Homo sapiens: one gene and its partners. The protein of the gene in region 1 purifies or fractionates together with the protein of each later gene. This does not show direct contact. Each region holds a gene or a part of one and is shown in the gene's direction. Other genes may lie near its edges. The genes, in order: DNAJC17, CZIB, GCFC2, CYRIB, GALC, AQR and CCDC12.

What was found.
Region 2: the proteins of DNAJC17 (region 1) and CZIB fractionate together in Homo sapiens (co-fractionation; one large-scale study listed by BioGRID). This does not show direct contact.
Region 3: the proteins of DNAJC17 (region 1) and GCFC2 purify together in Homo sapiens (affinity purification with mass spectrometry; one large-scale study listed by BioGRID and IntAct). This does not show direct contact.
Region 4: the proteins of DNAJC17 (region 1) and CYRIB purify together in Homo sapiens (affinity purification with mass spectrometry; one large-scale study listed by BioGRID and IntAct). This does not show direct contact.
Region 5: the proteins of DNAJC17 (region 1) and GALC purify together in Homo sapiens (affinity purification with mass spectrometry; one large-scale study listed by BioGRID and IntAct). This does not show direct contact.
Region 6: the proteins of DNAJC17 (region 1) and AQR purify together in Homo sapiens (affinity purification with mass spectrometry; one large-scale study listed by BioGRID and IntAct). This does not show direct contact.
Region 7: the proteins of DNAJC17 (region 1) and CCDC12 purify together in Homo sapiens (affinity purification with mass spectrometry; one large-scale study listed by BioGRID and IntAct). This does not show direct contact.

The regions. Positions count from the first base shown.
Region 1 is NC_000015.10:40,769,474-40,772,973, reverse strand, and holds part of DNAJC17 (dnaJ homolog subfamily C member 17), read left to right. Parts: intron 1-524; exon of another isoform or gene 525-1,950; coding exon of another isoform or gene 1,951-2,478; exon of another isoform or gene 2,479-2,994; intron 2,995-3,500. Other genes in the region: C15orf62 (uncharacterized protein C15orf62, mitochondrial precursor), read right to left, coding at 1,951-2,478. UniProt on the Homo sapiens protein: May negatively affect PAX8-induced thyroglobulin/TG transcription.
Region 2 is NC_000001.11:53,217,835-53,222,134, reverse strand, and holds the start of CZIB (CXXC motif containing zinc binding protein), read left to right. Parts: upstream 1-1,500; 5' UTR 1,501-1,559; coding exon 1,560-1,565; exon of another isoform or gene 1,566-1,775; intron 1,776-1,790; coding exon 1,791-1,874; exon of another isoform or gene 1,875-2,334; intron 2,335-3,211; coding exon 3,212-3,268; intron 3,269-3,639; coding exon 3,640-3,721; intron 3,722-3,931; coding exon 3,932-3,963; intron 3,964-4,300.
Region 3 is NC_000002.12:75,662,205-75,665,915, reverse strand, and holds the end of GCFC2 (intron Large complex component GCFC2), read left to right. Parts: intron 1-1,132; coding exon 1,133-1,250; 3' UTR 1,251-3,211; downstream 3,212-3,711.
Region 4 is NC_000008.11:129,856,061-129,859,560, reverse strand, and holds part of CYRIB (CYFIP-related Rac1 interactor B), read left to right. Parts: intron 1-3,500. UniProt on the Homo sapiens protein: Negatively regulates RAC1 signaling and RAC1-driven cytoskeletal remodeling. Regulates chemotaxis, cell migration and epithelial polarization by controlling the polarity, plasticity, duration and extent of protrusions.
Region 5 is NC_000014.9:87,962,183-87,965,682, reverse strand, and holds part of GALC (galactocerebrosidase isoform a precursor), read left to right. Parts: intron 1-53; coding exon 54-178; intron 179-184; exon of another isoform or gene 185-1,479; intron 1,480-1,539; exon of another isoform or gene 1,540-1,795; intron 1,796-2,171; coding exon 2,172-2,299; intron 2,300-3,500. UniProt on the Homo sapiens protein: Hydrolyzes the galactose ester bonds of glycolipids such as galactosylceramide and galactosylsphingosine.
Region 6 is NC_000015.10:34,959,743-34,963,242, reverse strand, and holds part of AQR (RNA helicase aquarius), read left to right. Parts: intron 1-2,428; coding exon 2,429-2,469; intron 2,470-3,500.
Region 7 is NC_000003.12:46,942,246-46,945,745, reverse strand, and holds part of CCDC12 (coiled-coil domain-containing protein 12), read left to right. Parts: intron 1-3,500.

The DNA.
Region 1 (3,500 bases):
AAAAAAAAAAAAAAGAAGGAACTCTGGCTACCCTGCTGACACGGGGTGGTGCCTGCCCAGAGTCTGGGTGCCCTGCCTGGGTGAAGCGTAGACCTTCCAGCTTGTGTGTAACCCCCAACCTGCAACCATGGCCCTGGTGTCTTTTGGCCTGGATACAAAGGCTAGGGCTGTGGGGCTCCTGGCCACACCTGTCCCCACCTTGGTGGAACAGATTGCTTTGGGGGCAAGATCTAGCAACCTGGTTCTTCCCTTCTCTGCAGTGGCCCAGGGCCTGTCTGGTGTGTCCACAGCCCCTCAGCAGGCTGGCAGGAGGCTGCTCTCATTACTTTACCCACGCCAGCCTGCTCCGTTGCCTGCCCCTCCACTTGACTGGGGTGACTGGAAAGCAGCTTTCTGCAAGTGTGTCCCAGATCCTGGATGGAGGGAAACAAACTGGCCTGGGCCTGACTCAGGGCCCTGCTTTAGAGACCTCATTCCCACCTTCAAGTCCCAGCATTTCACAGCCCCAGATAACACTCCATAGATTGTGTTAGAATTTTATTCATTCTCTCCTGTATCCACAGCTCGGTACCTATACACAAGAGGAGGAAAGAGGGAGGCCACTGATTTAGGTCGTAGAAATGGTGTGTGTCAGAGCTTCCCTCTCCCCTTTGCTACTCTTAGCGAGTCCCGGGGGGCCACCAACACATGGCCCAGCCAGTGCTGCTGGGCTCTGGTTTCTGTGTTCTGGTGAGGCCATGGGGTGGGGCCGTAGCACAGCCTGTGGCTTTGACCCAGTGGGCTTGGCCTGGTTGGCAGGCCCATCGTCGGAGGGTTCAGGCGGCAGAACTGTCTAATCCCGGGAGACGGTTCTGGAAACCAGCTGTGCCGCTTCGCTGTTGAATGCCCATCCCTGGATCCAGTTCTCCTCTCTTCGAGGAAGGAAACCTGCCAGGGCTCCCATCACTAGTAATTCTGGGAATTCCCCAAAGTACCCCTTTGCAAGCCGTGCGCGTGCCTGTGGCTGGCATTCTCTAGAGCTGCCTTCCTTCACCAGGGATTGCTCCGGGTAGCTGTGTTGGCAGACTGAGCCACGTCCTCATTTCTGCTAAGGATTTGCCTGGTCTTTTTCCTGAGTTATACTCTATCTCTACCTATCTCTTCCTATGTGGCCAGCCCCTGTATGCGCCTCCCCTTTGCTGGTGGCTCCAGGCCATGGTCTAGACAGCGCTGTCCATTAGAACTTTGTGCAGCGATGTTTACGTCCATTCTGCACTGACCAGTGTGGTAGCCATTAATCATGTGTGGCCACCGGGCATTTGGAATGTGGAATCTGGAATAACGGTGCAGCTGAGGAACTGAACTGTTAATTTTATTTATTTCAATTCAGTGTCATGCAGTGAGTGGCCACCAGATTAGACAGGGTCAGGCCTTCTCCCCTTTCTTCCTGGGCCTTCCCACTTTCCTCTTCTGCCTGGGTTGGACTGCCTTTACCCAAGCTTGTCCTGTGACCTCTCTCTGTTGACAGTGGCTTCCAAAGAGGCTGGCATGGGGCACTCATCTCTTCTGCTCAGTCTGTGTCCTCCCACTCCCTGATCTGACCCCGTGCCACCTTCTGGCTCTGCCAGCCTCTACCTGGTTCCTGTAGTGCCGCACAGAGCCTCCCTTTCCCGGCACAGCCTCCCTTTCCCGGCATAGCCAGCTTTCTTCAGGGTCCTGCCAGGAAGGGCCGCCCCCCCAACATTTCCAGATTGCCTCTGTCCCTCCACTCTGGGGTGCCTGGAAGGACTGTCCAGGACCCAGAGAGCAGGCAGAGCCCTGGATTCCTATCCTGGAATCCTCCCCCAGGATGAAGAAGCTCTGCCTGCCTGAACCCTCCAGCGATGGGCCTGGAGTCCTGTCCCTGTCCTTTCCTTAATCCCCAGCCTCTGGATCTTCCAGTCACCCCGGCTTTGCCCACCCTCACCCCATTTAGAAGCTGGGCTCGCTAGGAAACTGCTCCCTTAGCATCTGCAGAACTTCCTCAAGAAGTGAAATCCCCAGGTCCACTTTGAAGGAGAGGAAGGGATCACTGAGGTCTGGGGTAGGTGTCCTCTGGAAGCAGGGAGTGTCCACAAGGCCCTTCTCTGAGTGCTGGTGGAGGGCACTCGACAGAGAGAGCGCCGATGGCAGGGTGGCAGAGTAGGCTGCTGTGTAGGCAGGTGGGGGCTCCAGGATGTTGGGGCAGCTTGAGCTCTCTCGGTAGAGGCGTGGGGGCTTGGGTGGGGCCAGCAGGGTGGCCCGGGGCTGCTCGTCCCCCCACAGTGGCAGGCGCCGGCCATCTGGCCTCCCTTGTAGCTCCCGGATGACTTCTCGGTTGCTGTACTCCTCGTGGTCCCCACCTGCTGTGCTGGCCTGGCTAAGCACACTACTCTGTCGCCGGAGCCGCCGTGGCCGCCCCAGGCTCAGCTGCTTGAAGAAGGAGGCGTTGCGGAAGGAGCCTTTCCGCCAGGTCTCCATGGGGCCCAGGGGAGCCAGCAGACAGGTGTTCAGGAGCAGCCAGGGTGCATGTGGTCCCTGCTGGGGCAGTGAGTGCCAGCAGCTGGGGAGGCTCCCCTAGGAGCAGAGGCCTCAGGGTTTCCACTCAGCACAGACCTTTGACCACATCTTGGATGGTGAGAGGAGGGCTCAGGAAGAAGGAACTTTTTTGCCCAGGAGAGCAGACAGCTGGGAGTTCCTGGCAGCAAGAGTTTCCCACAGGGACAGGAGTGGCCTGGTTACTGAATAGGGTAGTGGAAAAAAACCCAGGAGGAAGAAGCAGCACTTACTGGAGCCAGAATGAGGGCAGCTCCGGCGGAGGCAGAGGTGGACCTTCTCGGGCTGGGTGAGGCTGGCGAGCGCTCCTTCCACAGGCAGGCAGCAGATGGCCCGAGCTCACTCGCCCTGGTGTTTGCCTGGCTCCTATATGTCTCTGGGGCAGTGTGGGGCCGTGCCCTCTCTGCCAGTGGCTCCCGGACTCTGATGAGTGGCCTGGCTGTTTGTGGCGGTGGAGATGTGTTTTTGTTCTCAGCTGACTCAGTCAGGTGGGAAGCCAGGTTTCGTGCTCTTGGGTAATTGCAGCATCCGCGTGCAGGGATGGGGCAGCTGGGACCAACACCCCAGGGCAATGGGGAGCTTAAGATTCCTCTGGGGACTCGTGTGGGGGCAGCCCTGCTTTATGTGTCACCACGCGGCTTCCTTTCTGATCACAGCCCCACCACCCTGGGCCCCCAGCAGGTGCGCCTGGCTCCCTGCCCACAGTGTCTGGGTAGGAAGAGTTCGGGGCGGGTGGGAGTTAATTGAAAGGCAGGCGTGTGGAACGATTGTTGGGGAAGGAAGAGACCTGTAGCTGGTATGGGTGACTCAGCCCCGCTGTCAGGCCCTCACGAGCAGGAACAGGAAGGGGGGCAGAGGGTGTGTTAATGGGGAGCAGCGCCATGCCTGTGATGGGCGGGCTCTGCTGCCCAGGGTTGGGCTGGGGGCCCGCCAAGGGTGGCTCCAAG
Region 2 (4,300 bases), on another chromosome or scaffold:
CTTTCGAATTTATTTAGGACCCTGAAGCACTTTAGCCAGTGGTGGTGGGGCTCGCCAGAACCTGACCACTGGGATGGATGATTCCCCTCTGGCTAGGGTTTCTCTAAGTGCTTCCTCTGTGGGCACTAGCTGAATTCTGCCCTGAGTTGCTTTCCACTGTGACAGGGCAAAACTCAGTTCCAATGCAAAGTCCCATAAGCACACAGATTCTCTCTCTATGCCAGGCAGCCAGGTGCTGCCAGAGGATGAGGGAGGGGTGGTGGTAGCAATTCAAGACTGTCTTTCCTACCCTCTTCATTGCCTTGTTCCTTTTTTTTTCTTCTTTTATGAGATAGAGTCTCACTCTGTCACCCAGGCTAGAGTGCAATGGCATGATCTCAGCTCACTACAACCTCCACCTCCCGGGTTCAAACAATTCTCCTGCCTTAGCCTCCGGAGTAGCTGGGACTACAGGTGTGCACTGCCATACTCGGCTGATTTTTGTATTTTTAGTAGAGACAGGGTTTCACTATGTTGGCCAGCTAGGTCTCAAACTCCTGACCTCAGGTGGTCTGCCCGCCTCAGCCTCCCAAAGCACTGGGATTACAGGTGTGAGCCACCGCACCCAGCCATTGCCTTATATCTTGATGTGACGTTACAACCAGCTACTGTGATTGCTACCTGAGTTTTGGTTCTCATGAAGGTGCTTTCTTGTGTGGATAGTTGTTCAGTTTGGTGTTCCTGCCAGGGAAGAGGAGGAGGAGGATCACTGGAGGGTTCTATTTGGCTATCTTGCCCCACCTCCTAGAAGAGTCTTGAATGTGCTGTTCCTTTTACCGTTAATCTCCACAGCTCCTGCATGGTCTCAGATGTAGCCTGGACAGGAGGCCAGGTAAAATAAAGTTCAATAAACGTTATGAGAGAAGGATAAGCCAGGTGGGCTCCCAAAAAAGAGCCAGCTGAAGGGGAATGTCCAGTCGCAAGGACCACAGTGAGAAGGATGTGGACACAGGGCAAACTCTGGAGAAGGGCCTAGAAACCAGGTCTCTTGGGTGAAACAGGAAAGGGCAGTTTGAAGAAAGGCATCATCCCCAAATCTGATAAACCAATACATTCTACTTTTTAAAGCGTATTGGTTTATCTTTATTTGGCAGTCTTGGAACTCTTCCTTTTGTAGCTTTTCCCCTGGGCAGAGGGAGCTGACGTGATCTGAGAAGTTCCAGGGCAGGCAGAGTAGTGAAGAGCCTGGAAAGAACTGAGGGTCAGGAACTGTCCTGTTCGCTTAAAGCAGGCACAAAATTGGCGTTCAGTAACTGTCTGTGGCACCACCGAATCCTGGAGTCAGGCTTCCGCTGGCCTGAGCACAGGTTGCTCGCGGACCTGGCTGACCTCCACTGGCCCCAGATCCCCAGATGCGAAAAGCCCAGTGGGCCAGGCGAGCAGCGGCGCGCAGAAGTCCCTGCCCCGCGGCCCGGCCCCGGCCCCGCCCTACTGAGGGTGCGCAGACGGCACCCGCCTTTTACGACGCGCCGGAAAGCAACGGCAAGGGCCGCAGCCAGCACCGGGCGGAGAGGGCTACCATGGGGGTGAGGGGAGGCCGCCCGCCGCGGGGACACGGAGGGGAGGTGGCGAGGGTCTGGGAGGCAACAGCTCGCGCCAGGAGGAGATGAAGCGAGTGGGTGCGCGCTGAAGGAGCAGGAGGCAGAAGGAGTGTCTCCCTGTGGCACCCACGGCTGGGAATGCGGGAGGGTCGGGCAGGCGTGGGGCTGCGCAGGCACGGCTGACGCAGTCGCTCTGGCCCTCCCCCTCAGAAAATCGCGCTGCAACTCAAAGCCACGCTGGAGAACATCACCAACCTCCGGCCCGTGGGCGAGGACTTCCGGTGGTACCTGAAGGTGCGGCCGGGGCGGGGCCCGGGGAGAGGAGGCCCGTCCTGATCTCAGTGCTGAACCGGAGCCTTCTCTCCGGCAGTATGAGAAAATATTTAACCAGGCACATTAAGTGTTCGGGGTTTTCCTAGTTAGAATTTTACGTTTGCTTTCTATTAAAGTGTATTGGTTTATCTCTAATTGGCAGTCTTGGAAAGCTTCATTTTGTAGTTCTTCCCTGTGTTAAATATTTCGTGGTCTGTAAATGGACACTAAACGAAATGCTACTTGAAGGGACGCTTGTGATTATTTAATAAGGTGAATAGTTCGCCTTTCGTTTATTGATTTGGTTTTCTTTATTGTGAAATAGTTTAATTTTGTGCGTAATCCACCCTTCCTTAGCCCTCCCACACTGGTAAAGCTGGTACCCTAGTGGCATGGTCTACAGAGGCCTCCCCTTCCCCAGCAGTTCGAGGCTCTTCACTCTTCCAGATCCCAGAGCTTCTGCTCTGTTTTACTCCTGGTCAAAAATCCCAGCATCCTTCTGTACCTCTCAAAAGCCCTGTTTTTCGGGAAGCTGCCTCCGGACTACTTTTGTTTCCCAGGATTTTGAAGCCTGAATACCAGGGCTTACTTGGGAGAATCTGTTCTTTGGCTTGAAGAAGCGGAATCGAGTGAAGGAGACAGAAAAATAGAGTAACAATAGAGTGATAAGTGCTTATACCAGTGACATACAGGGCCTGTGGGAACATAAAGCTAACCAAGCAGAGTGGGTCGGGGGCCTGCTGAGGCCATTTCTCTTTTTTTTTCTTAATTGACACAGAATTGTACATATTTATGGGGTATATAGTGATGTTCCGATAAATGTAATGTATTGTGATCAGATCAAGGTAGTTAGCATATTCACCTCAAACGTGTATCATTTCTTTGTGTTGGGAGCATTTAATATCCTAGCTATTTGAAACTATATATTATTGTCAGCTATAGTCATCCTACAGTGCTATAGAACACTAGAACTTATTCCTCCCATATAGCTGTAATTTTGTATCTTCTAACAAATCTCTCCATATTCCCCCCCCTCACCTCCGCTGAAACCATTTCTGCACCACAGGTGCCTTGAATCCCCGGCCACACTGAGCACTTCATAGAGGAGGGTGGGCACGCCGGCATAGGAAACAGCCTTACCTATCCTTTGCCCAGAGATAGTTCTAGTTTTGTCCTTGTTGGGGCAGGTGTTAGGGATGAAGTGAGATTGCCATCAAGAAGGTAGATCATGAGCCTGCCCACCTCCCACTGTTCTTACCCTTTCCTTGGTGTCTGTGCAGCAGAGCCAGCTGCTTTACTAACATTCTTTTTCCCCAAAGATGAAATGTGGCAACTGTGGTGAGATTTCGGACAAGTGGCAGTACATCCGGCTGATGGTAACTGTTCCCCGCCCAACCCCCAACATAAACACTCACAAACACACATACACTTCTGGGCAGGGATTTGGGGAAACTGGCCTTCATCTCTCCAGTTCTTTGCTCCCTGCTTTTTGTGGTTTGGGAGGGTAGGTGTCAGTGTGATCAGCACTGGATTCAATAGGCATCTTTGAGGTATGAGGCAGAGTTCAAAATCAAGGGGAAGCCCTTTTTTTATTTTCCTCAGGAAGCCTTCCCAGGAGTCTTGTCCTAGTAAGTTACCCTTTCTGGGTCTTGGTCTCTTTAAGTGGACAATAAATGGTGGGCTCGATCTCCTCAGGACTGTACATCTAATTCATATGTGACTGAAAGTTCTGTTTGCTTTTTGCCAGGACAGTGTGGCACTGAAGGGGGGCCGTGGCAGTGCTTCCATGGTCCAGAAGTGCAAGCTGTGTGCAAGAGAAAATTCCATCGGTAGGTCAGGCTGTGCGTACTGAGTTCTGCCAGGGTGGCCCACAGCTTCCTGGCACCAGGCTGAAAGTAGACTCATGTTACCTGAGGGTGGAGTCAGGCCTAAGATGCCGACACCTGTACAGCGTGATCTTTTTCAGGGCCACATGTGGGCACCTGGCTGGGGCGAGGGTATGGACTCAAGTCAACTTTGTGTTCTCTTTTCTATTTCAGAGATTTTAAGCAGCACCATCAAGCCTTACAATGTAAGTTTGCTGCTGTAGTGGCAGGGATGGTGGGCTTAAATCCTAACTGGAGTTAGTAGGTCTGGGTTCTAGAGTCATGCCTGCATCAGAGTGACCTGCCATAGGACATTCACTCATGAACTTAGTTCTTCTTTGACTCAGTCATTTATCCACTGTACACTGAGTGCTTGGTATATTGCCTCTTGCAGTGCCTTCTTATGAGGGCTGGGCTGTGAGAGCTCAGGGGACCTCTGACACAACCTAGCTGTTCAGTTTGCATCACTGAGAGCACTTGCCTTGTCTTCATTTTAGGGGACTAGCAAGCTTTCTCTGAAACCATGGGTGGGGTAGTCGTTTG
Region 3 (3,711 bases), on another chromosome or scaffold:
TATTTTCACTTCTATAAAGAGAGTTCATGGATTCTGTATGCTCTCAACAACTTTTAGAAAGATTTGTATTTTTACTGTACTTTTAAAAATTTGTTAAAACTTTGTAGAGTTAGTAGATATTTTTATGGTTACCTTTGGGATGGCTTATGCATATCCATATTTTAAAATGTAAATCTCCCCCAAATTAAGCAAATTCAAAAAACTATAGCACAGGGGAATATAGAATTAAAACTATAAATCAAAAACATTTTATTAAGCACTTTTTAAATGTGTTTTTAATTTTCCTGTCCATTTTTAGAGACTCAACAGTTGTTAAGTACAGGTCTCCAGCTTGGTATTTATCCAGCAGTAGCTAGCTCTCTGTTCTGAATGTTTCGTTCACAGCACCAGCTGTTTGGGGGCTTAAATACAGTGGTATTCCTGTTAACTCCCTCTCCAAAAAAAATTTTTAAGCCCAGATTTGGCCGGGCATGGTGGCTCACGCCTGTAATGTTAGCACTTTGGGAGGCTGAGGCAGGAGGATCACTTGAGCCCAGGAGTTTGAGAACAGCCTGGGAAACATAGCAAGACCCTGTCTCTAGAACAAAAAATTTAAAAATTAGCTAGGCATGGTGGCATGCGCCTGAGTCCCAGCTACTGAGGATGCAGAGGTGGGAAGATTGCTTGAGCCTGAGAGGTTGAGGCTGCAGTGAGCTATGATTGTGCCACTGTACTCCAGTCTGACCAGCAGAGCCAAGACCAAGTCCCTTTAAAAAAAAAAAAAATCAGATTTGTATTATTTGCTAATGTCATGATGTGTGAATATACTCCCACCATTGCTTCCACCACAATGTCTCATACAAGCTAATAGCAACGCAGCACTACTGAAATTTCTGATAGACTTACTATATGCTTTTCTACCTTTTACAGTAATTCACATTGAAATTTGCCAGAATACATCCACTAATGATCTGTATTTGAACTTTATAATTAAGTGGAGATGGCAGCATCTCTCTGTGTTTTATGCTACTTTAGATATTGGCTTAAGGTAAAGCTTTTGTTTTAGATTAACAACTGATGATCAGGTTCTGAATTGACCGCTGTTCCCTCATACATTGCATTTTTAAAGGGAGAAATTTGTTTTGTTTTTCAGGGATGAAGTCGAAGAAATAATTCTTATTTTGGTGAAAATAAAAGCTTTGAATCAAGCAGAATCCTTCATAGGAGAGCATCACCTAGACCATCTTAAATCACTAATTAAAGAAGATTGAATAAACTTTATTGGAAAATGCTAAAATTTTAATATAGTTACACTCAGTTCCTTTGTTTGAGAAGAAGCTGGTGCCTCTCTCTTCTTTATTCCCTGTAATAGAAGGTAGGATTTGAAAAAAAGCAGGACTCCACCTCTGTATTCCCCCGTGCTTTACCTTCTGGCATCATGAAAAGCTGCCATGATTCTGTGGTGTTCTAAGGAATTAAATGCACTGGAGCTTTAAGAGCTCAACGTGTTTCCCTTTGATTCTTTTGGCTGGTCTTTCAATTTTCTTAAGAGGGGAACTGGAGAAACCTTGCTAAAGGTTTTAGCTTAAGTGAGCATGCTACTAAGTCTTCTGTCCTGAACCACAATAATATCTTTTAGTTCTCTTTAACTACCTTTATTTAAAAATAAGTCAATATGAAAATCTCAGTTGGAGTGAATTATTTGCTAAGTATTAAATGATTAAGGCATGTGCCGATTGTCAAATTATCCTTCAGAAATCTGTACCAATTTAATGTACCAACATAAGCATAAGTGAGTGCCAATGAATCCCTACCAGCAGTAGTTATTATCCTTTTTAAAAATGCATTGAAAATTTGAAAGGTAAAAATCTTATTTTAATAGCGTATTTTGTGTTGGCTATTAGAGAGTAAACATATTGGTTTTGGCCATTTGTAATTATTTCTGAAATATCCATCTTTTTCTTATGGACTTTAAGACCTTTATATTTTTAAAGATATTGATTTTTTGCCCATGCTTGTGGCAGAAGTTTTCCTTATTTGCCATTTTTCTTTTATTTTTTTTTTAATTGTATTTTTTGAGACAGGGTCTGGCTCTGTCACCCAGGCTGGAGAGTAGTGGCACAATCTCGGCTCACTGCAACCTCTGCCTTCTGGGCTCAAGCAATCCTCCCACTTCAACCTCCCAAGTAGCTGGGACTATAGGCATGCGCCACCATGCCCAGCTGATTTTTGTAATTTTTTGTAGAGATGGGGTTTCGTGACATTGCCCAGGCTGGTCTCGAACTCTTGAGCTCAAGCAGTCTACCCACCTTGACCTCCCAAAGTGCTGGGATTACAGGCTTGAGCAACCATGTTTGGCCTTTCTTTTAAATTTGTTGATGTTTTTTGAAGCATTAAGTCATTACTTATTAGCAAGTTACTATTTTGTTTTTTTGTCATTGGTGGTAGGACTAAGAAGGAAACAGATATTTTAAATACTCACAACATGTGATTCATTTTCTGATAAAATATTTGTCTAATAAAACAGAGGCAAGATAATTTAATCAAAAGAAATTAAGAAAATTTTCCAAAAATGTTAGTTTACTAGTAATTTTTCTAAGTCTACTTATTAAATAACTTAAGGGAAACTGTAAATATATTTTGCAAATTGTTGTTCAAAAGATAATTGGAAAAAATTGAATATATTGTAGGATTTGAATATACAGCCTACTTTTATGTCACCTCTACCTTCAAAACTACATATAATTTATTTTAGGAGTTGGATTTGTTATGTCTGTTGCAGTGAGGACTTGTGATTCACTGGTATGAAGAATTTTTTGATGTTTATATTAGTAACAAAATTATACAAGGATAGAATCTCATCTAGAAAATGCAAACTATTGTTGAAAAGCAGTTAGCATTTCCACACAACCGCTGTCCCCAGAGATAACTGCTGTTTTCATTTTAATGTTATCCTTTTAGACCTTTTCTCTATTTACAAAAATGTTACGTGTTTCTATGTGTACATAGTTTTGGGTTTTTTTTTTTTTTTTACGTAAGTGGCAGACACTTTATTGCACATGAAATTTGTAATTTTTTTCTATTTAAGTACACATTTGGAAATTATCCTCTGACTTTTGGATTTTTAACTAAATATGTTGGACGTGTTCCTTTATATATTTAAGTTCAGCACAGAAACTTTCCTACCTTTTTGTGGAAGATAAAATATTAAAACTGCTTTCAAAACTACAAATTGACTTAAACTGCTATAGTAATTTTCAATTAAATTTCATTATACCTGGAGTTTGAACGTTAAGGTTTTTATCATATACTGTAATTCAAAAATTTACCTAAATCTCAATGTAAAATTCTTTTTTTTCTTATTACTATGAAATGGATGGAATAAGGAGGGGGAACACAACTAGCAAGAACAAAACATTGGGTTGGCAATTGATATCACATCTTAATTCTTTCCCTGAATTTCTTTCAGCTTTTTGTTCACATAAAGAATGTGAAATTTTTACAGAATCAGACAGATGACTTTAAAGAAATTTTTTTCATGATGGAAAAATCACCTCAATTGATTTTTCCATTTCTTAGGTCCTTGAATAAATGATACTTAGGTATACCTCAGAAATGCCATATATGATACAAATCCTGCAAAAGACATCATGAGAAAATACCAGCAGTATCTATCATGAATGTAGAAATAAAAGTCCTTAAAATAATTAGCAAATCAAATCCAGCAATGTA
Region 4 (3,500 bases), on another chromosome or scaffold:
TGCCAAGCGGACTGTGGTCTAGCGGTAGCCTCAGTGTCAAGGAAAAACACCCGCTACTTAGCAGACTGGGAAAGGGAGTCTCCCTTTCCCCGGGGGAGTTTAGAGAAGACTCTGCTCCTCCACCTCCTGTGGAGGGCCTGACATTAGTCAGGCCCACCTGCAGTTATCCGGAGGCCTAACCATCTCCCTGTGATGCTGAGCTTCAGTGGTCGCGCTCCTAGTCCGCCTTTATGTTCCATCTTGTACACCTGGCTCTGCCGTTTAGTTAGCAGTAGCAAATTAGTGAAAGTACTAAAAGTCCCTGATAAGCAGAAATAATAATGTAAGCTGTTTCGCTCTTTCTCCTCTCTCTCTCTGCCTTGGCTGCCAGGCAGGGAAGGGCCCCCTGTCCAGTGGACATGTGACCCATGTGGCCTTCCCTATCATTGGAGATGGCTCACACTCCTTATCCTGCCCCTTCGTCTTGTATCCAATAAATATCAGTGCAGCCTAGCATTCGGGGCCACTACCGGTCTCTGCGTCTTGGTGGTAGTGGTCCCCCGGGCCCAGCTGTCTTTTCTTTTATCTTTGTCTTGTGTCTTTATTTCTACACTCTCTCGTCTCTGCACACGGGGAGAAACCCACCGACCCTGTGGGGCTGGACCCTACAGTAAACTTGCCATACTTGCTTGTTCTGTACTTGCTTGTTTTGTTCTGAGGCCTTGGAGCCCCTCCTGTTGAGGCAGATACCTAAGGGAAGGTTGTATGGTCAGGTAGTAGGACAAACTGCTTTGTCTCCCCTCAGTCTTGCTCATGCTTTAGGGGCTTACATTAGGGACTGCCTCCAAGGGTCATAATAAGTCCCTTCAACATGTTAGCTTCGTTTCACTGGGCAGAATTTATCAAAATGTATTTTAAAGGCCCCAAATGCCCACCGTTAATTGTGGTCATGACTCTTGGTTGTCTTAAATCCTTTAGAATCCATGTCCTCAGGTTCTCTTCTGAGAGTTTGAGAGTAGATAGATGGCAGTTGATGAGAATAAACGACTGTTGTCTCTATAGGGAAACTCTCCCCAGGGGCCTCCTCTTCCTAATCAACTAGTTATTCTTCCCTGTCCTAGCTTGTGGACTGATTTGTCATCTTTATCATTCCTTCTAGTTGTCTTTTCCTTGCAACCTCCTTCTGTGGTTTTGGCTCCTGCACTCATCTGCCAGCTTCCTTTGGTTCTTCCAGAACTTAGGGCTTAATAGACTATTAATTTTCTCCTGGTCATCTGCTTTTTAAAAAATCATAATCTCATGGTTTTGTTTTAGGAGCTTCATCTGAGTCCAATCCCAGGCATCTTTTCTTTGTCCTCTCTTTCTCTCCAACTCATCCAGAGACCTCTGGGACATTTTCTGTGGGATTGTCTCCAGTTTCTCTCTTGAGACAGAGCATTGTAGGCTAGTAGGACTGACTTGTGCCAGCACAGGCCTGCAGGGTGAGGCTGATCTAGCTGCTTCAAAGGCAGATTAGCAGATTTATCATCTTGAGCTTCCCTTTCAACATAGATCTACCATGGAGGGCCTCAGCCATTCATAGACAAAAGTTCTGCAACTACTGGTCACTGACCATCCCAACTTAGTCAAGCGACCTGACTCCAGTCCCAAAAGTGGTAGAGAACTTGGAATGCTGAAATTAACCCTGAGACTTGATAAAGTCTAGGCAGATGCATTTTTCTTTTTTTCTTTAACAGACTATAATAATATTTTGTAAAAATGTTTTTTTCTGTTCGGTGTCTCTCTTACTTAGTTTTCCAGTTAACACCAACAGAAAGAATGAATCTTGGGAGAAGTAAACCATTTTTAAAATATAACCCAAAATGTTTGACTTTTAATTGATCTTCTTCACATCCACTGTTACACCTTGATACACCATCCATACCCCTATAGTCCATGCTCCACACTGCAAATGAAGTAGCATTTTAAAATGCGAATCTGCTGACGCCACTCCTCTGCTTAGATGATTTCTCTAGGGACATTAGGATGCCAAAGCCCGAGTACTTAATGTGGTCCACAAATTACATGTGTATGAATCATCTTAGTCCTGGTTACCCTCCTCCTTGCCCTCTGTGCTCCTATATTGGTGGTGTTGCAGTTCCTCAAGTATGTCATGCTCTTCTCAGTTCAGGGTCTGGCTTCCTGCCTTTCTGTCTGCAAACTCATGTTCATCCTTACTACATACTTCAGTCTCAGTCCAGGAGTCATTTATTCAGGGAGATCTTTTCCTGGGCCTTCCATTAGGTGAGGTCTTATTTTTATACCTTTCCACTGTACTTATTTTCAGCACATATCACAGCTGTAATCATTTGTCTGTCTTCTCTCTATATAATAAGGCTCCATATGGGCACAGGGAGCATGTCTGTCTACATCCATTTTCCCAGTGCTTGGCACAGAGTAGCCAGTCAGTACATTTTCAGACTTACTGGAAAAAAAAGGATAATAGCTGTCATTTAGAGTTATTACATGGATGAGAAATAATGTCTGTGAAGAAATAGTTCAGTACCTGGTATCTGACAGACACACAGGAAGTACCTACTATTGTTTTTAATCAGTAGATTAATGTTTTGTAGGGTTACAGAAGTAATTGGTACTATTGGTAGTAATCAGGAGGTTAATGTTTTATAAAGTTACAGAGGCTACGTACAATGTTGCTTTATTTCAGAGACAGTTTATTGTGGTAGAAAGAATAGGGCTTTGGAGTCAGAAATACCTAGCATTTACTAGCTATAACTTTGGGCTCTAAGTTCTTTGAAACTCATTTGATCCATCTGGAATGACCATGTCATAGTTGATGGTAAAAATCAAATGGGAGACTATATTCAGTGTACAGTAGATGTTGACTCATACGTAAATCTTCATAAATAGGAAAACTGGGGTTTTTTTAAAGTTACGGGCTGATGACCTGACATAAAGTTTTAAATTTATCATTAATATTTGTTTGTTAATCTGACATTTATTAACATCAGATCATAGTTTAACTCTGTAAGCTCTTATTTTCTCTGACCAGAATCTAGCAGCATTTTCCAGTTCTGTGATCTGTAACTGAATTCATTTGATTTCTATGGCTTTTTGAAATATTGAAATGAAATATTAGTATTTAGTATTTAATATTAGTATTAGTATTTAGTATTTCCATTATCAAACATGGTATTTATTAGCCTGGCATCCCAAAAGTAGCACTTATTTCAAAGGGACCATTTTGCTCACATAATGAATTAGAATATTTATATTGTAGTCTTGAAATGTCAAGTTCTAAGACAAGAAGCTTATTGAACCACATATTTTGTTCTCTTTAGTAGCTGAAAGCAAACAGTTTGTGGTTATAAATAAAGGATGTATTCAAAGTATGAGAAATTGGTAATTGATTCATAGGCATATACAGACAGTGTGGACACAGTGCCATTGAAGAAAGTTACTCAGCTGTAGATAATAGTTACCATTTCATAAAACCAAATTCCACACTGTGTGAAGTGATTAAA
Region 5 (3,500 bases), on another chromosome or scaffold:
TTACATTTTTATCACAAGTTGTCTTGGTGTTTCTTTTTTATCAAATCTTTTAGCACAATCGCATGGAATTTAGTGGCTAGTTACTATGAACAGTTGCCTTATGGGAGATGCGGGTTGATGACGGCCCAGGAGCCATGGAGTGGGCACTACGTGGTAGAATCTCCTGTCTGGGTATCAGGTATGGTTCAGTTCCATCTCTCACTCCCTAAATTCTTCTCTAAGAGACAAAGCAGAAAAAAACTTAGAGAAGATTATATAAACTGTGTGTCTATGCGTGTTTTAAGTATAGATTTAAGTTTTAAGCAAGATTTGCCAGTGTTTTATAAGAATATTTTGGGTAACTAGACTACTCTCTGATTATTCTAAGACCAGGCTTTTAGAAAAGTGTAGGAGAGGAGGGGGAGAGAGAGGAAAAGGAGGAGCTGTGTAGTGATAGAGACACAAATAAATAATCATCTAAGGATATAATTACAAATGATGATAATTGCTAATAAGATTATGTATTTATAAACAGAGTAGAAGTCTTAAGATTAGCTTTGAAGACATTTTGTTCTCTTATATTAATAGAGTTTCAATTACAATCGTATGCTAGCAAAATCAAAGGGAGATGATTAAAAATACTGTATTATTGAATCATCAAATGAATAAGTAAATATGAAAGTTATGTGAAATATGGCTTTATATTGTCCCCTAAATCTGTGAAATGTGGGTTGTGAAAAGGTAAATTTCAAAATAGGTAACAATGTAAAGCTCAAAAGATTTTAAAAGTGAGCACGTACTGAAGATTTTATGTTACTCATATGATATGAAGGATCCTGGCAGATAGATGGTAGATGTTAGAAACAGTTGAAATGAAAAGTCAACATAGCACAAATTTTCGTAGTGTAAGGGAATTGGAGATGAATTGTCAATGGAGGCAAATTGGGTTTCCCACAACAGGGAAGAAATTAATTAAATTTCTACCAGACAAGACATAATTTACATAGCTCAGAGACAATGAACAGGGCTATAGATAATACATCCGTTTTTATTGAAACACAAAAGTTTTACTACAGTATCATTCATTAGTCACAAGGGAAATTGAGATTATGCAGGGATGGATGGCATAGTGTCACTTTTTCATGAGGAGATAATAACCATACTAATAGTGATTATATTTTAAACAAAGTAACAAAATCTATTGCTGAATAATGTTGAAACTTTTCTGCAGTTTTTTTGTAAAAGATTATAAACATTTATTACCATTTTGTTTTAAAATTCTAACAATCTTTCTAAAAAGCTAATTTCTTTAAAGGTAAAATGCTTTCAGAAGAAAATTATGAATTTGGAGTGAATTTGTTTTTATTTTAAACTTAAATTTGGTGGTTTTCCCTTTTAGTTGTGCTCTCCTAAGACAGATTTGTAATCATATTAATCATGTAATCATGATATTATTCTAAACTCCTTAAATTGTCCTCCAAAAAATATAAGAAAATTAAGGTTAGACTTGTATATTGGACTTGTATATTCTAATATTGAGAATTATATGAGAAAACTAAGGTTAGACTTGTATATTGGACTTGTATATTCTAATATTGAGAATTATATGAGAAAATTAAGGTTAGACTTGTATATCAGCGCCTTGAATGTTGAAATTGTTGGCCCCACATTATCTAGATGAACTAATGTACTCTTAATTTTGTGATTTTTCCAAGGGTTGGGACATGGTATATTGCTTAGTGCATTTTCAGGACGAGCTTAGGAGGTGACCAATAAATGTACATGTGGTGGAAATAAATATGTTTGAAACCATAAAGTTAGTTTCTGAAATTCATTATTAACTTTTTAAACCTTTTTTTGGTAGCTATTTTAGGATGGATTAAATAGTGATGAACCAAGTTTGGGGGGGGAATAACTATTTTATTCTTAAAAAAAAGACTGATCATATTCTTGAACTGACAGGTTCATTTATTTTTACCCATCATTCCAGGAATCTTCTTGCAATTGTACCATTTATCTAGATTAATTATTTAAAAATTTAAACATGAGGTTGACGGATATATTCCTGCAAAATAGAAAATAGCTTGTTTGGATGAATCAGACTCAAATTGATATACAGCTTTTTTTTTTTCCCAAAAGAAATACTATTATTACCATTTTTGTCTTATTTGGAACTTTCTGTTTTTCTATAGCTCATACCACTCAGTTTACTCAACCTGGCTGGTATTACCTGAAGACAGTTGGCCATTTAGAGAAAGGAGGAAGCTACGTAGCTCTGACTGATGGCTTAGGGAACCTCACCATCATCATTGAAACCATGGTAAACTTTTGTTGTTGCTATTGGATTAACTCACTTCTTTACTATTGGAAAAATAAAATATAAAACTGAATACTTTTGTTTTACATGTAAATACATAAGCATACAGACAGATGCCAAGATCTTATGGCTTTCATTTAAAAAATTTTAGCCATGAGTCGTAAAACATAGCACACAACTCACTGATTTGTACAAAATAGTTGGCTCTCATCTTTTCTCCACTTTGTTCCTGGCAGTTGGGATAAAATTAAGGTTACCTGTGTACCAATATTTGTGGAGACGACCTTCACGACCTTCCCTTGCCCTGATATGTATATGGAGGCTGTGGCTTTTTCCTTTTTCATCCTCAGGTTGTTTTGGGGAGACCTTAAGTCTGTTGAGAGCAACGAGCTTAAAATTCAAGTGATTGAGGGGCTTGAGTAGGAAGGGAATAGGTCTGACAGGTGGACAGAGGCATGGGAGGAGGTAGGGGCTTGAAAGCAGACATATCAAGGATTCAAGGGAACTGAATGAAAGAATGAAGGTGAAAAAACATGGAAGCAGAAGCAGAAGCCAGTGGAGAGAAGAAGAAGTCTGAGAGGTGCCAGTGTGGGGAGATCTCAAGCTTCCCAAAGAGGTCAATGAAGTTCCAACAAGAAGGAGGTAGACAGAATAGGAAGTGCATATAGTCAGCAGGGCTTTGTGAAGAAGGATTTCTAGCAACTAAGTTCCCATGGGAGAAGCAAGATCCAAAACAGAGAACAGAGTAGCCTTAAAAAAATGGTGTGTGTGTGTGTGTGTGTGTGTGTGTGTGTGTGTGTGTGTGTGTATCATATCAGGTTCTGAATGTCAGCCTACAGTTTGGCCAACTCCTGACCATAGACTCTTAAAAAACAAATTCTTTCAAATATCCTACTATCAGGTTTGAGCCAGGACAAACAGTAAATATTCCTGGCAGTATTGACCTTTTCAAACCAAAGGTGTCTATTAAGTGACTCACAACACAAACCAATAAGCCTTTTATGTCTTATCGTGGATGAAGAGGATCCTCAAAAGAGGGTGTAAAAAGATGCAGCCCTCCCAGAATCTACACTTCATCGTAGTCAAAAGGTTGAGAAGTGATCCTCCAAAGACCTAGAACCACTCCCAAGGATAGTCAAAAGAAAGACCCAGATAACCTCCCTACTCCCCACTCCCTGTCAGAGCTGGCGATAGTTGGTAAACT
Region 6 (3,500 bases), 5.8 Mb from region 1:
CTTTGGGAGATCAAAGAGGGAAGATCACCTGAAGCCAGGAGTTTGAGACTAGACTGGACAGTAGTGAGATCTCGCCTTTACAAAAAAATTAAAAAAATTGGCTTGTGCAGTGGCTCACACATGTAGTATCAATTGCTCTGGAAGCTGAAGCGGGAGGATGACTGACTGAGCCCAGGAGCTTGAGGCTGCAGTGAGCTGTAATCAGGCCACTGCACTCCAGCCTGGGCAACAGAATGAGACCCTGTCCCTTAAAGAGAGTGAGGTCTTTAAATGAAATAGATGTTGACACTGCATACCATTCAACAAGTAATGAAGACTCTTAAGCTTTGCCATTATAAATTTAATGGTGATGCTTTAGGCACTGTTGGTAAAACTGAACTTTTTACCCAAAATTTCTTACTTTATTTGAACTTAAATTCTTACGAATATATATTTGTTTTTGCCAGTAATCTTTTATTTATTTTTTTTTTTTGGAGGTGGAGTCTCGCTCTTGTCACCCAGTTTGGAGTGTAATGGCACGATTCTGGCTCACTGCAGCCTCCACCTCCTGGGTTCAAGCGATTCTTCTGCCTCAGCCTCCTGAGTAGCTGGGATTACAGATGCACGCCACCACGCCCTGCTAATTTTTGTATTTTTAGTAGAGACGGGGTTTTACCATGTTGGCCAGGCTGGTCTCAAACTCCTAACTTCAGGTGATCTGCCCACCTTGGCCTCCCAAAGTGGTGGGATTACAGGCTTGAGCCACCACACCCGGCCAACCAGTAATCTTTATTTTATTATTTAATTTGAAATTTGATGAAAACAATAACAGAGCATTTCATCTAGATTGAACAAGACTTGTTTTCCTTATCGCCTCCCTCCCTTTACCACTCACAAATACTTATTTCACAAATGTACTTGGAGCAATTAAAAGATATTATAGGCTAGGTACCATGGCTCATGACTGTAATCCCAGCACTTTGGGAGGCTGAGGCGGTAGGTCACTTGACTTCAGGAGTTCAAGACCAACCTGGGCAACATGGTGAAACCCCATCTCTACCAAAAATACAAAAAATTAGGTGGGTATGGTGGTGTATGCCTGTGGTCCCAGCTATTTGGGAGGCTGCGGCTGGAGGATAGTTGAGACTGGAAGGCAGACGTTGCAATGAGCTGTGATTGCACTGCTACACTCCACCCTAGGTGACAGAGTGAGACCCCATCTCAAAAAAAAAAAAAAAAGACATTATAGTTACCATACAATAATATTATAGCATGTTAAAGCACTTCATAATTTTACAGTAGTATTTTTTTTTACTATTATTAATGCTAGCACTACTACTGCTGCTATTGATAACTGTTAGTGAAGGCTCACTGTATGCCAGTATTTGTACTAATTGTTTATATGCCCTGTCTTATTTTATTTTCAGTAACCCTGTGTGGTAGTTTGTGTTATTAGATCTGTTTTGTGGGTAAGGAAACTGAGGCTTGGAGAGGTCAGGCACTTGCCTAAGAGTTCCAGCCATCAGTAGTGAAGGCAGATGTTTTGAACCAGTCTTCCAATTCGAGAGTCTGAGTTCTTTTTTTCTTTTTTTTTTTTTTTTGAGATGTACAGTTCCAGAGTCAGAATTCTTTTTTTTTTTTTTTTTTTTTTGAGATGGAGTCTCGCTCTATCACCAGGCTGGATGGAGTGCAGTGGCGCGATCTTGACTCACTGCAACCTCCGCCTCCCGGGTTCAAGTGATTCTCCTGCCTCAGCCTCCGAAGTAGTTGGGACTGCAGGTGTGCGCCACCACGCCCAGCTAATATTTGTATTTTTAGTAGAGACAGGGTTTCACCATGTTGGCCAGGATGGTCTTGATCTCTTGACCTCATGATCCACCCTCTTCGGCCTCCCAAAGTGCTCGGATTACAGTCGTGAGCCACCGTGCCTGGCCAGAGTCTGAATTCTTAAGTAGTACACCATTCTGCCCACCCTCACTCAAATGAATGGAAATTCTGAAGCTCTATCATATTCATTTGGATAAAGAGATGTAACAATTAGAATTTGTGTCTGTTATGTCTTCACACTTTTAAATTATTTTCTCTCTGGGTTTTGCAGGCACACAGTTATGACTCTCAAATGGAGTCTCATAACATTTATACACTTTAAGTTTAAAAAAAATCCTGATCTTGTGAATTTTTATTTTCCCTAAAAATCTTTATAAGCACATCATTTTAATGAATCTAGGGCTCTGTTTTATTATTTGTTTTTTCTACTTTGCTTTCTGTTAATTTCATATTTCGAGGAATATAATGGGATTATTTTAAATATCTCATTATTTCAATAGCAGTAATATTTGATGGCTTTCCTAAACCAACTTATTTTATATAATCTCACTCATTAAAAACTGTCAATTTAGGGTTGAAAAAAGTTGTTGAGATATTAAACATTTTTATATTTTTATAACAGGTTATTGAAGATATATATGAAAAAGAGATTGTCAAATCAAGGTAGGAATGAATTTAAATTTTATACAATGTGATTGGGGTGGACCAAGTTGGATCTTGGCTGAACTTCTAAATGTGATCATAACTTGAACCCTTTTTCTGTTTCAAACTGGTCGTCAGGGCAATGGTGACTAGAAAAACTTTAGGTGCTGAAGAGTCATAAATTATTTTTTGCCTTCTAACTTTTGGCTCAGATTAGAGGTATCAAATCCCATAGGGTTTATTTGGATTTAGATGGAATTTGAGAAAAAGTAAACATGAAGATTTTATTACTAGTATTATTTCTGATTCACCTTTTAAAAATATTCTTAAAAAGTTATGAAAGTAAGACATTATTAAATTTACAATAATATAGTATACATATGTAATGTATAAAATGTATAATAATAAACACAGAAGTGATAAAAATTATTTTTGAGCAATATGCTGTAAGGGGTGAGTTTCAATAAATCATCTTTTCTGCCCCCAATCCCTGGTTCATGTATATGGTTCATATACATCTGTTCTATTCCCCACGCCTTCACATGTTTTTTCAAACACAAAAGGGTTTGTACTCTACATGCTATTTTTCATCATGCTTCTTTTAAAAAATTTAACAGCGTGTCTTAGGCATCTTTTTGTATATACACCTGCAGACATGTATGTCCAGTGAGTATTTTAAAAGGATATTTGACTAAATGGGTCAAAGGCCATCTTCAGGATTTTGTTCTTTATTTGGAAAACAGTAGGAAGTAAGAAGAGTTGTAAGCACAGTGGTATTTGAAAAAGAGAATTTGGGTTTGTTTGTTTTTTTTCTTTTTTTGAGACAGGGTTTCACCATGTTGGCCAGGCTAGTCTCAAACTGCTGGCCCCAAGTGATCCACCTGCCTTGGCCTTCCAAAGTGCTGGGATTACAGGCATTAGCCACTGCACCCAGCAAGAATTTGGATTTGGAGGGAGCAAGAGGCAGGGAATTAATTAGGTGAGCATTGTAGTAGTCAGCTTCAAGATGTCATAGATTTGGCTTGTGTGGAAAGTTGGGAGCGGAATTGTCC
Region 7 (3,500 bases), on another chromosome or scaffold:
GAAAGACATAAATTAATAACACTGGCTGGAGAAGAAATAGAAAATCTATACAGTCCTATAACAAATATTTTCCCAAATAAAACTTCAGGCCAAGATTGCTTCACTGAAGTCTTGTTGAACATTTAAGGAAGAAACAATACCAACTTTGCACAGCTCTAATTTTATTTGTAACAGTTTTGTCCCTGATAAAAAGGATTTCAAACATTAGGAAACAGGTCAGTCAGACTCTGTCCTGAGCAGGGCTGTATTTGAGACCCCCTGAAATCCTGCCTCAAAGGCTTCTTCCTGCTGAAGGCTCTGGGAGGAGGTGAGGGCAGGGGTGCAAGGTCTAGGTGTGGAGATGTGGGCAGGGGTGAGAAATGGGGGAGTACCTCCATTAATAGGCAGATAGGCTATGGGGAGGGCCCCAGCCCAGACCATGACTCTCCTGCCCTCCAGCCATCAGCGTTCCTGAGGTTTACTCTTCTGGAGTTGGTGGAGAGGGTAGCAGTTAAATTGGTAGCATTTCTGAAGGTTGTCTAGCCCAGGCTCTGGGCTAGGCCTTGAGGTGCTCTAGGAGATGCCCCGTGCTGAGAGGTTCTTGAAGGGAAGGGGTAGTAAAGCCTACATGTGAATAGGAATGGCCACAGGCCTGTGCCCTGGGCCTACGGTCAGACCCTGATATGCACTGGGTAGGCCCAGAGGATTCTTTTGCCTGGGAATCTTAGAAGGCTGCTTTGAGGAGGTGGCCTTTGGCCTGGCCTTTAGGACTGGCCAGATGGTGTGTTTTCTTGGGGGTTATCAGAGTAGATATTTCAGGATTTGAGACAAAATGTGGGGTGTAAGAGTGTTCTGGACAGAGCAGATGTGAGGTCGAGATGAATGGCTGTTGTCCTGGGGGTGTGGAGACCCAGTGAGAGCTTTGAGCGGAGGTGCAGTGTGGTCTGACCAGTATCTTTGAAGAGGAGGCCAGGAATGTGGATTGATAAGTTGAAGAGAGACTTAGGGGAGACAGGTTGGAGAAAGAGAGGGAAAAATGCAGGAGGCAGCTGTATTCTCCAGAGTAGAGGGGAAGGCTGGCTGGCAGGCAGGGGTGGAGGGGAATGGCTGGGGGCTTGGTTGTGGTGGGGAGCTAAGGAGGTGGTAGACGAGACTAGGGATTGGGAAGGAGGGAGAAGATGGCAAGATTTGGGAAGGGTATTGAGTGGGGAGTGGGGGTGGTGAGGCATTGAGTCTGATTTAAAGGTCTCAGGGTGAGCGAAGTGTCTCTAAATTCCTGGGGAGGCTGTGCACCTAGGGCCTTGCCTGCTTTCCTACTGAGTGTCCAGCAGGGCCTAGGCTTGGACTTGGGCTGGCTGTGGCCGCATCTGAGCACATGGGACCAGGTCTGAACTGTGTGGGGAGCGCAGGAGAGGCGGGTAGAATCAGAGCTCTTTAGAAACTCAGCGCCACTCTTCCACTCTTGATAGCCTCTCTCTCGTCTCCTTGGCAAGACTGAGGGCCAGGCATCAGGACGACCTGGATCCAGACTTGCAGCTACCGCTGATGGGTTCTGTGACTTTGGACAAATCTTTTCCTTTTCCCTGACTGCCATTTCCCAGGTTTTCCCATGGCTTAAACTGAGGACCTAGAATGGGTGATCCTGCGAGCCCTCCAGGTCTGAGGCTCTTTGAGTCTCTCAGGTAGGGGTGAGCTTCAAGTGGTCTGCGCTTCCCTCCACTATCCCGGGCAGCAAAGGGCCTTATCTTGTGATTCAGGCCAGTGTCACCAAAAGCGATTTTCCTTCCCGTGAATGCCCATTGTCCTATTTATGAATCACTCTTTGTCAGGAAGGCTGAGGTACACCTTATCTCCCCCACTTGTGTGGCCTGTTCATTTGTTCACCTGCTCCTGCCACAGATGTGGATCTTTATCTTTTTTGAGCCCCTGCTCTTTGCACAGCATCCCAGGCTGGGGTCATTTTTAACCTCATGCTGTCTGCAGAGCTAGTGCTGCCCCCCACCCACCAGATTGCTGGGCATTTTTAAAAGTCATTTAGATAGTTGGGTGTTTTCTCATTTATTAATGAATAACTTGGCCTTTGCTGAGGCACTTGAATGTCTCTGGGGCTCCAGGAGGGTGGTGACAGCTGTTTGACCTTGCTTGAGAGCCGAGAAAGGGCATGGTATTTGCAAAGCACTCCTCCCAAAGGCTGGACACTTTCCCGTAGTCCCCACCTACTTCTGCCAGGTGGTTCGGGTTAACAGAACCCCTGTGGAAAGGAGTCGTCTTTGTGGCTGGGGGTCTTGCCCCACTAGCCCAGTGTGGGGAAAGAAGAGCCCTTTCTGCTTTTCCTTCTCTGCCCTTACCCAGGGCAGGTGTCTGCCGCTCCTTCCCCTGAGGTAGGCACTGCAGGGAGTAGCCTTCAGGGTGTCCGCTGGTTGGGAGTTGGGAAGGAATTTTTTGCTAGAATTTGCAGGCTCTGGCTTGCTTCATCGGCTAGTCTTTAGTCAGGGAGGGCTGCATGTGTCAGCAGGGCCCTTGTGGAAGCCCCGTCCAGGTCCCAGCAGCCCTGGGAGCCATTTGGAGAATCCTGACTTGTTTCTCAGTGAAGCATTTATACTCTGTTCTCCCTTCCCTCTTTGGCCATCACCAAGCATCTGCCTGTCCACCCCAGGGCCTGCCTTCCCCAGCAGAGGTCAGTGAACTCTCTCCAGTCTCTCCTCGGTTTCTCCATTGCTTAAGAACACCGGCCAGAGCCCTCTGTGTTCGGCCATTGCCTGCCTTGACTGTCTTACCTGGCAATCATTGTCACCCCCTCCCCCAACCCCAGTCACCTGCATGCTCTTCAGACCACACCCTGCCTTTGTTCAAGCTCTGCTTCCCACCGGGAATGCCCTTCCCACTTCTCTCCCCCTATGCTGTATCACCCAATTCTGCCCAGCCCATCTCTCAGTAGGAAACCTCTCACCCATCGCCCAAGAACCACGTTCCATGTTGACCTCTCTCGTGTAGCTGCTGTCACTTGGTCAGTTATTTTGTTCTCGCTGCCTCGTTGCCATGAGATGAGCTGCCCTGAGTTGGGGTGGGGGGCATGTTGATCTGTTCTCATGACAGAAGCCTTTCTCTGGGCCAGGCCTCCGACCTGGTTTTGGTAGTCTGCTCCCCGGAGGTTGTGTGGCCAAGGAATGGCAGGGTCTGGTTGATGCCTGCAGTCTCCACATAAAGCAGATACCATTCTTAGGAAGGCAGTTGTCAATGGCATAAATAAATGTCTAGGAAAGGTAGTTCAAGTAGCTGTTTTACTTATAATTTATATGCAGGCTCCAGCGCATTCTGTGTCCACCAGAGCAGGCTCCCAATGGAAGGAGCTCACAGATCTCTCTTAGAACACTGCTCTGCGAGAGTCAAAGGCAGGACGCTGCCATAGTGAAGTGAGCATTGTCACCTTCTGGAGTGCCAACCCTGGCATGCAGGGAGACCCACGACAGCTCTGTCTTGGGGCCTCTCAGTCCATGCCCTGGGCCCCAGGTGTGGTCACA